Regions from separate parts of the Homo sapiens genome. Here all the other regions are linked to region 3. The links come from fine-mapping of genetic effects on plasma protein levels. A gene starts in region 3. Each other region holds a variant in brackets. All regions are shown on one strand. Distances are between the middles of the regions. Region 1 holds the start of LOC124907990 (a long non-coding RNA gene). Region 2 overlaps SERPINE2 (serpin family E member 2). Region 3 holds the start of SERPINE2 (serpin family E member 2).

What was found. A credible set is the group of variants that fine-mapping cannot tell apart. PIP is the chance, under the fine-mapping model, that this variant and not a neighbour inherited with it causes the effect. Protein levels are from antibody-based Olink assays in UK Biobank. Linkage for the fine-mapping came from a reference panel and not from the study's own genotypes, which makes the PIPs less certain.
Region 1: its variant is the best candidate, but not a certain one, in a credible set for the plasma level of the SERPINE2 protein (UK Biobank, PIP 0.81).
Region 2: its variant is the best candidate, but not a certain one, in a credible set for the plasma level of the SERPINE2 protein (UK Biobank, PIP 0.83).

The regions. Positions count from the first base shown.
Region 1 is chr2:224,008,681-224,011,437 of GRCh38, forward strand. All of the region lies in intron 1 of SERPINE2 (serpin family E member 2), which reads right to left. It overlaps LOC124907990 (a long non-coding RNA gene), which reads left to right and starts at 197. Exons shown (of 2, transcript XR_007088102.1): 1 at 197-477. RefSeq lists enhancers at 618-1,817, 742-1,317. The variant G/A (reference allele first, on the strand shown) is at 1,477.
Region 2 is chr2:224,024,515-224,027,271 of GRCh38, forward strand. The region is part of intron 1 of SERPINE2 (serpin family E member 2); the gene reads right to left. Among named protein-coding and RNA genes, the nearest start is that of SERPINE2, 13 kb to the right of the region's middle. RefSeq lists enhancers at 1,608-1,667, 1,728-1,777, 2,169-2,757. The variant C/T (reference allele first, on the strand shown) is at 1,578.
Region 3 is chr2:224,038,163-224,040,919 of GRCh38, forward strand. SERPINE2 (serpin family E member 2) reads right to left here and starts at 1,124. Exons shown (of 9, transcript NM_001136528.2): 1 at 937-1,124. It overlaps LOC124907991 (a long non-coding RNA gene), which reads left to right and starts at 1,240. Exons shown (of 2, transcript XR_007088103.1): 1 at 1,240-1,380. RefSeq lists a silencer at 1,290-1,584.

The sequences.
Region 1 (2,757 bases), 29 kb before region 3:
CCACTTCTCCAGGGAGCTCTGGTTCCTTTTAGTGAGAAACAGTAGCACTGAGCACCCTTATCTAATAAACCCTAAATGTTTTAAACTGTGGAAATGCTGAGCAACAGTGATAAGGAAAATCCAAAGTCCATTTACACCACTCTCTGGAATATATCCAAATACTGAAATTCAAATTATGAGAGCCAGACTGGTGACTGTTTCACACCGATGGCTCAAACATCACTGGAAAATCAAATTATGAAAGACCAGCTGCTGACACTGAACGGGTTTGCCTCCCATGGCCATCTAGACCGAGGGAGGCTCGCTGGATGATGACAAGATAAAGGAGTCTGCTGGGCATTAAAAGCTGGGCTGGGAGAATCAAAGTGGATTGCCCTCGTGTGACAGCAGCGAGCCTCCTGAATCAAGCCCAGCCTAAAAATGGAATCCTAACAGTGCAGATGCCAGCGACAAACAACCGACACACAGCACGGCAAGGTGAGTCCCCGGATTTATCTCAGCCTCTCCCCTCCCCGCCCCTCAGTGAAAGCTGACACCTTCTCAGGCACTGGGAAAGTCTCGCCATCCTTCTAGTCTCTGTGTTGCTAGGATCCTGGTTCTTGGAACCTAAGGCCCCTTATTAATCTACAGGGGCTACAGCAGGTAGAGAAAAACAGCAGGTATGTTTTGTCCGAATCATGACATCTCTCAACAGCTTTTCCTGCCAGGGCTTCCCAAAGAAATAAATGTACAGGCCGGGCACGGTGGCTCAAGCCCGTAACCCCAGCACTTTGGAAGGCCGAGGTGGGCAGAGTGCTTGAGGCCAGGAGTTCGAAACCAGCCTGGCCAACATGGCTTAACCCTGTCTCTATTAGAAATACAAAAATCAGCTGGGTGTGGTAGCACATGCCTATAATCCCAGCTACTCCAGAGGCTGAGGTGTGGGAATCGCTTGAACCCAGGAGGTGGAGGCTGCAGTGAGCCGAGATTGTGCTACTGCACTCCAGCCCAGGTGACAGAGTGAGACTCTGTCTCAAAAAAAAAACAACAACAAAACAAATGTACAGGCAAGGTTTGTGGCTGCCAAACTGAGACTTCTGAATGGCCTTAAGTAAAATCGTGCTGTCCAGCATTCAGACCAAACATTTCTCATCAGTACTTTGCCAACACTCAACGGTGTTTGGCAAGAGGCATTCTAGAAACTCTTCAGGAGGTGAGCCATGGAGATTAAGGCTGTCTCTGTAAGATGACAGTAATTGTTAATGTACAAGTAATCGGGGTTAAGCCTCACATATGGTCTCTGTCTCTCAAATCTGTATAAGCATTACTGAAATAATGTCCACCAAGACCTGTATTCATTTTCCAAACATCTACCACATTTTCTTATGATACCAAATCAGGTGAACAAGCAAACTAAAGTACATCTTGGTTATCCTTGGGAAGTGTACTAAGTACTAGCAAAATGACTCAGCATCTTTAAAATTTAGAGAACAAACA[G/A]GAAATGCCAACTTATCAAGGGGACAGCAGCTTGGTAGTTTTAAAATGTGTTTTTCAGGTTAGTGGAGAAAGACTTAGAGACATCTGAATTTTTTCTTAAATTTTTGTCTGCCTTCAAAGTGTATGCTCATTCTATGACACTAATTAATTTGGCCAAAAAGGAACCTAAAAATGTTTAGGAAATACCTTTTCAGCCGCTGAAAAGTATGGCAGCAACATCCAAATGGTCCCTTCAATGAAAAGACACATATTTTATTATAAAGTACACTCTGACATCAAGTGCCTTTTATCCATATATTATCCATTCTGAAATCTCTTTGGGTTGATGGGAAAAGGCTAGGGGGAAGGAGGGGATTAGAGCTTTGTTAGCAGTCTGTCTTTTAAAATTCAAGATTACAGGATATTCATTCTATTTTCCTCTAAGTTTCCGGGAAAATTCACCTAAAGTTCAAATTCCAATCCTACTACCCATTAACCAAGAGATCCAAGGCAAGTCACAATCTTCATCCGTCTTAGCTTTGTCCTCTGCCATATTAGAAATCATATCTCAAGGGTGGCCATGGAAATTCAATAGGTGCAAACTGAAAGACATAGTAACCAGCCTAATACCTGGCTCAGAGCAAGTGTTCAGTAAATGCTGGCTCTCTTCTTCTGGTCCTCTTCAATGCTCAAGACCTGAAATACTCTGATTTGTATTTCAGCAACCATTTAGAAAGTCTCAAGGATCAAGCTAAGAAAACAGTCAAACACTGCTACCTTGATAAAGCCTTGTCTGTATCTTTATAACTTCCTTAGACTATTTAAGACTCAGAAATAAATTAAGACAATGCTGGTGCGTTTTGCCGTCTCTGTAAGAGAACTGAGGGGTCCATTACTGTGGGAATGGAGGGGGAGGGGTGAGTATGTCCCAGAAAACCTTTAATAGTGCTGAGATATGTTTTTCGGTCTGCTGACTCAGATCATTAAATCTGGTTTACCTATGTATCAAGTCCTATAGACTTTTCTTTTTGATATGTCTTTAAGACGTAATGGTCCAAATGGCTGATTTCCTAATCCAGCAACCAAGAGGTGACCCAAGACATTATAGTGACATTGACCAATGGTTCTCAATCTTTAAAAACAAGGAAGTACCTTTTTAATTTCTCTCTTCAGCAAGAGACATGGAAGTACCTTTTTTAGACATAAAAAATATTACACATAGTTCATGACCATGTTTTTAGTATTGGTAAAAATACATAAAATACAACCATGAATTCTTAAACATGTCAATAAAATCCAAAT
Region 2 (2,757 bases), 14 kb before region 3:
CCTATGCCCATTTAACACTACTGTGGAACAGGCCTGTTGTCTAGTCCTGGGCCTGCCTGCAATGGGTAAGTCACATACCTGATCTGCAACTCAGTTTCCTCATCTATAAGATCAGTGATAAGCCTCCTTCCCCACCAATGAACTTCAGAGAGCTGCTATGAGGATTACGCGAAGATGCTGAAGAACAAGTCAATAACTCTTAGGTTCCACAGAACTTTTCTTCACAAGACCCGCCTGCTGCCCTGCTGCCAACATCCAAAGCTAAGATAGGAGAACAGGGACTTCTAGAATTAAAAGTCAATGACAATGGAAGTTCTCCTTCTCAGCTTTATCTAACCTCTGGTATAAGAAACTGCACCAACGAATCTTTAGGGATGAAGGGGGCTGAGCTTCTTTTTGTCATGAAGTTGCATTTTATAGGGGAGAACATCTCCCCAGTTACTCACAGCCAATTATGGAGACAATGATCCCCAACAATGGGGCTGGTGAGTAGCTGCACAGAAGATGGGGGAAGAAACTTTCATAAAGCCCCTACTATGTGCACAGCTCTGTGAACACATCATTTCACAGACTCTTACACACAGAGATGCAGAGAGGTTGGGGAACCTGCCCACATCACACAGAAAAAAAAGAGAGCACACGGGGGTACCCACCACAAGACTGGCACGGCCAAGGGCTTCTCCCAGGGACAGGTCACCTGCCCGCCCCTTGCCCAGTCCCCTGGGTCTCTTTTCATTCCCTCAGAGTGCAGGATTGGCACTAACCCCATTCCCCAGCTTTCACCTCTCTTTTTCCTCCCAGATGTATAAGTGTGTTTCCAGCACATCTGACCAACTTCTCCCACATTGCAAGAGTGAGGCTCCCCTCCTCCAGCGTTAATTCTTTATTTCTTTGATTAACTTCTAATTCCCATGCATGCTTGGATATAGGGCATCCCCCAGATAAGACAGCCCTCTTCTTTTCCCAATGAGAAAATCCCTACCCCCTACAAATTTTGGTCAATCTGCCCAAATAAACTTTATGACTCACATGAAATCACATACCCTATGAGTTAGAAATAGTACTTTTCATTCCATGTCCACCTTCCATGAAGCAATTTAGCTCACAGTCTTCCCAGGTAGTGTCCACATGCCTGTCCTCAATTTGTGAGTTGTGTAACCATTCTTCTAAGCACAGCACCTCCTTACCTTCCAAGTTGCCTATCACACAGCACTTTTCAAAACGATGTGCAACACTGCCACTGAAACACCTACCCTAGGCCATCAGAAGCCCTTCAGAGTGACCAAGAAAGTTGCCCTCAGAGGCAAAAATATATTGACGATCCACACAGCATATTAGTGATCGTGTTACTTTTAAAGTGACCTTCAATGGTCTTAATAAAATTTCAAATGACAGAGGGCAGCTAGCTCTTCAGGAAACCCATTTCCTCTTCTTGCCAACCGCAGAGCTGGGCTACATTTCCTAGCCTTCAAGGTAGGTGGGCGTGACCATAAGGCTGAACTGTTCTTAATGAAATAGGAGAAGTGACACATTCCACTCCCAGGCCTAGCCTATCAAAATCTCCCATATGCAGTCCT[C/T]CATGATCTTTCTGCTTCCGCCAGTTCAATGCTGACAAGTACGTGACCTTAGCAGCTGCCTGTTAAATAAAGTGGAACCACAGACAGGAAGAGGCTGGGTCGCCAAATCACCAGGTTTCACATAAACACGCCCACTTCGGGCTTTATACAAGTGGAAAATAATCTTCCATCATGTTTGAGTCACGGTACATATTTGGGTTTATTTGTTACAACAACTAGCACTACCTTAACTAATTCAACGTTCAATATCTGGCAACTCTGAAGTTATAACCTCAAGAACAAGTACTAAATCTGTATTCAATTTCTTTGCCTCTCTTTTTTAAAATTTAACCCCTTTTCATGAAGCAACCTCGATAAGCATTCATAATATGCATTGACTGAGAGAATTTCAGGCGAATTTGCCTTCCCCATCTGTTCTCAGCCAGTCACTCATGGATCTCATCTATCTAGTTTTTTTGCGAACTCTTAATGATTTTGTAAGGACCCTACTAGACGGCAACTCCCTTTCTGAAGAACAATTTTGAGGAAATTTTTTGCTTCAGACACAGTTTCCAAGCCGGGACACTCTTTTCCATAGAGAAACTTCTGTATTTCAGTGCCTTTTCGTGACATACTCAGAAATTGCTCAGGTACCATTTTCAGCTTATGTGCCTGGCCCAGAAGGGATCAGGCCTTAACACAGGCTTGTGTATTCCCGTGTCTTGCTGTCATAGATATTTAATGCTTCACACCTTTCCAAAGTTGTCCATGAAAACTTTTGTCTTCCTTTCTAGGGAATTAATCTCTCCTCTGTGAAGGAGTTACCTGTTTTTCTTCAGCCATAAAGAGCACGTCAGAGACTAAATAGCCAACTCTTAGCTGGTACAAATCAATAAATACCAATTCTACAAAGTTTCGGGCAAAAAGGATTTAGTGGAGAGTCAAGTAAAAGAAAAAATGAGGACGGTTGTGCCCAGGAGGGCTACCTAGACACTGGTGTTTACCAGCTATGTGCCAACATTTCCCTCTGCAGAGAGATTTACCTCTGGCACAAAGTAGTAACTGACACTTAAGTCACTTCTCTGCATGAAGGGCTTGGCATTAGCACTACTGAGCCCCCCTGCTGGCTGTCTGAAAGCTGGGCGTTACTCCCCTAATCTCGCATAGGAGGACACCTGTCACTCACCCAGATTCCTCAGCT
Region 3 (2,757 bases):
CACAACAATTCAGACAAATAAACGGCTTCTTGGCTTGAAAGAGGAAGTCACACCTTCGAACACCTTTTTATGCTGATGCTAAATATAAGAACGTCCCCTGCAAAGTAGCCAAAGCAAGACAGCAGCATTCGAGATTTCTCCAGAGACACACACACAAAGAATGTGTTTCGTTCATTAAAACACTAAAACCTTCAACAGCATCTTCCATAATACCTGAAGGTGGAGTGCTGTCTTATGTAATAGAAGCCTTCCTTCCCCGCTCAGTTTGTGGACACATTAAATGCCTAATTCCTTCCAGAATTTCTGAGTACCGTACTTTCATTTTACCTGCAGTCACTCATCCGCCTCGCAACTCCCGTTTCTACAGATGATGAAAATAGCAAAGACCTGCTCGCTCGGGTTAAATCGGCTGCCAGAGGCCAAGTTAAAGGCTTTCCCCACACCGCGCGTCACCTCCCTCTGCCCAGGCAGAGGTAACAAGTAAGAGTGCGCCAGTCTCTCCCCATCCGGCGGCGCGCAGCCTAAGTCCGGGGTAGGGGTTGCCGGCGAGCAGCTGGAAACCTCAGGTTCAGGGTCAGGGCCGGCTCGGATGGCCGGGCAGGAGCCACGCCGGCCCCGGTGCTCCCAGCTGCGGGTATCACTGGACGCCACCCCGGGGCGGCCCCGCCTTGCCCTGCCCGGGTCCCGCTCGGGGCTCCCGGCGGGCGGGACCGGGATGCCCGGCGAGCACCCAGCCCCGGCCAAGGCGGCCCGCGGGAGGCTGAGAAAGTTCTCTGCTCCCCGACGTCGGCGCCCCAGGGTCCCGCTGGCCCCGCAGCTTCCCGGCCGGGCGCAAGGTCAGGGAGCAGGGCCGGTGGCGCGCGGAGCCCCGGGGAGCGTCCCCCGCCGAGGGCAGCGCCGGCCGCGCCCGGGACTCACCGCGCAGCCTGTACTCACCGCGCTCGCTGGATCCCCAGGGGGCGGCCGCGGAGGGCGGTGCGGCCGCAACCGGAGCGGGAGCCTGGTCTCGGCGGCGCGGGGAGTCGGAGGACGCAGCCAAGCGGCGGCGGCGAGGAGGGTCACAGCCGGAAAGAGGCAGCGGTGGCGCCTGCAGACGCCGCGCAGCCCGGGCAGCCCCACAGCGCAAGCTGGCTGCCGCGGCGGCGGGGGCTTTATCGGCGGCGCCGCGCGGGCCCCCGCCCCTTCCTGCCGCCCCCGCCCCCGGCCCGCCTTGCCCCGCCTTCCCGCCGCCTCCTTTGTGTGGCCGCGGGCCGCAGCGTCCCCGCGCCCGGCCTCCAGGACGCCCCCTCTCCGCCTGCGACTTCTCGGATGCCGCCCCGCCAGGGGTCCGTGTCGTGGGGCTGCGCCCGGAACGCGCCGGGGAGACGCGCAGACCCCGAGGTGCGGCGCCAGCCCGGGCCCAGCTGCACGTGGGTCTCCCGGATGGGGGTGTGTGAGGTGGCGGGGGGAATACCAGGGCTCGTACCGCGTCCCTGAGACGCAGGGCATGTCGTCTTGGCTGCCCCCTGGAAGAGACAGAGGGCGCCCTGAGACAGCGCTCAGTCCTCCGGGTGATGGGGAAACGGTGCCAGGACGCGGCCGGGAAGGGGCAGATAACCCCTCGAGGCGTTTTGCAGGGTGTCCTAGAGCTGACTTCTCCCTGCCTAGGGGACAGAGGAACGGCGGCAAGTCGCCTTAGGCAAATACAGACGAGGGGAACCAGAAAACTGGATTCCCGGCTATGGTGATAGCATGAGGTACCCGCAGCGTCCTGGGAACCCAGCCCTTCTCAGCCGGTAACCACTGCTGCTGGGACCCGGTGCGCGATAGACAGGCACATACCCCAGGGGCCTGCAACAAATGACCGTCCCGCTCCGGGCTCTGTTACCTGGACCTCTCTTAGTTGGTTCCTCCTTTGCCTCTAGTTAGGTTTCTGGGGACCCAAGGACCCAACTTTAATGACAGTAATTTATGTAGCCGTTAGTGTAGAATCGTCGCTAGCAGGCAGACGGCCCCAACAGCGAGGAAGAAATGTAAATCTCCCTATACACAGCCCTGGATTAAGGGTACAGCTACTGATGAGAGCCACTTGGAAGATCAGCCTGCAGTCACCCCTTGGCATGCAGGTGGCCGTGCCAGAGTGTGCACGTGTGTGTTGGGGAAGGGGTTGCTCTGAAAAGTGTAAAATCTGGACCAGCCTAAGGGTGTTCTCAGTCTCTCATAGAGGGAAACAGGCTATGGGAGGCTTGGTCCTAAAATAAGGAGCAAACAGTCTACAAAAATGAGCATCTGTTTAATTATTTTACAGTCATACCAAATATTTATATTCAGTTACAGGGTAACTTTCTTATTCTCTGTGCCTGAAATGCTTTTTGTCCCAGGATCTTCTATGTTGTCTGCATCCTTACACTTGAGGTCACAACTCAAATGTCCTCTCCCCTAGGAAGCCTCCCCTGACCACTTGAGATAAAGTCACTTTATCCCCTCTAACCTATGACTTCCTTCATAACCCTCATCATGAATTGATTTTTTTTTTACCTTGTTTCTTGCTAGTTTTCTTCTACTCTCTCTCATTGGAATATACTCCCAGAGACCAGGGAAGAGAAACTAATTTCAATATTGTTTCCAACTCACTCTATCCCTAGTGCCTAGAGCCATACCACACATATAGCAGTTACTCAATAAATTTTGTTGACGAGTGGATGAACTACTAGCCAAGTGACTTTTAGACATGCTAAGAACTGTTTCAGTGACAGTATTGTGCTTGGTCCAGTCAGG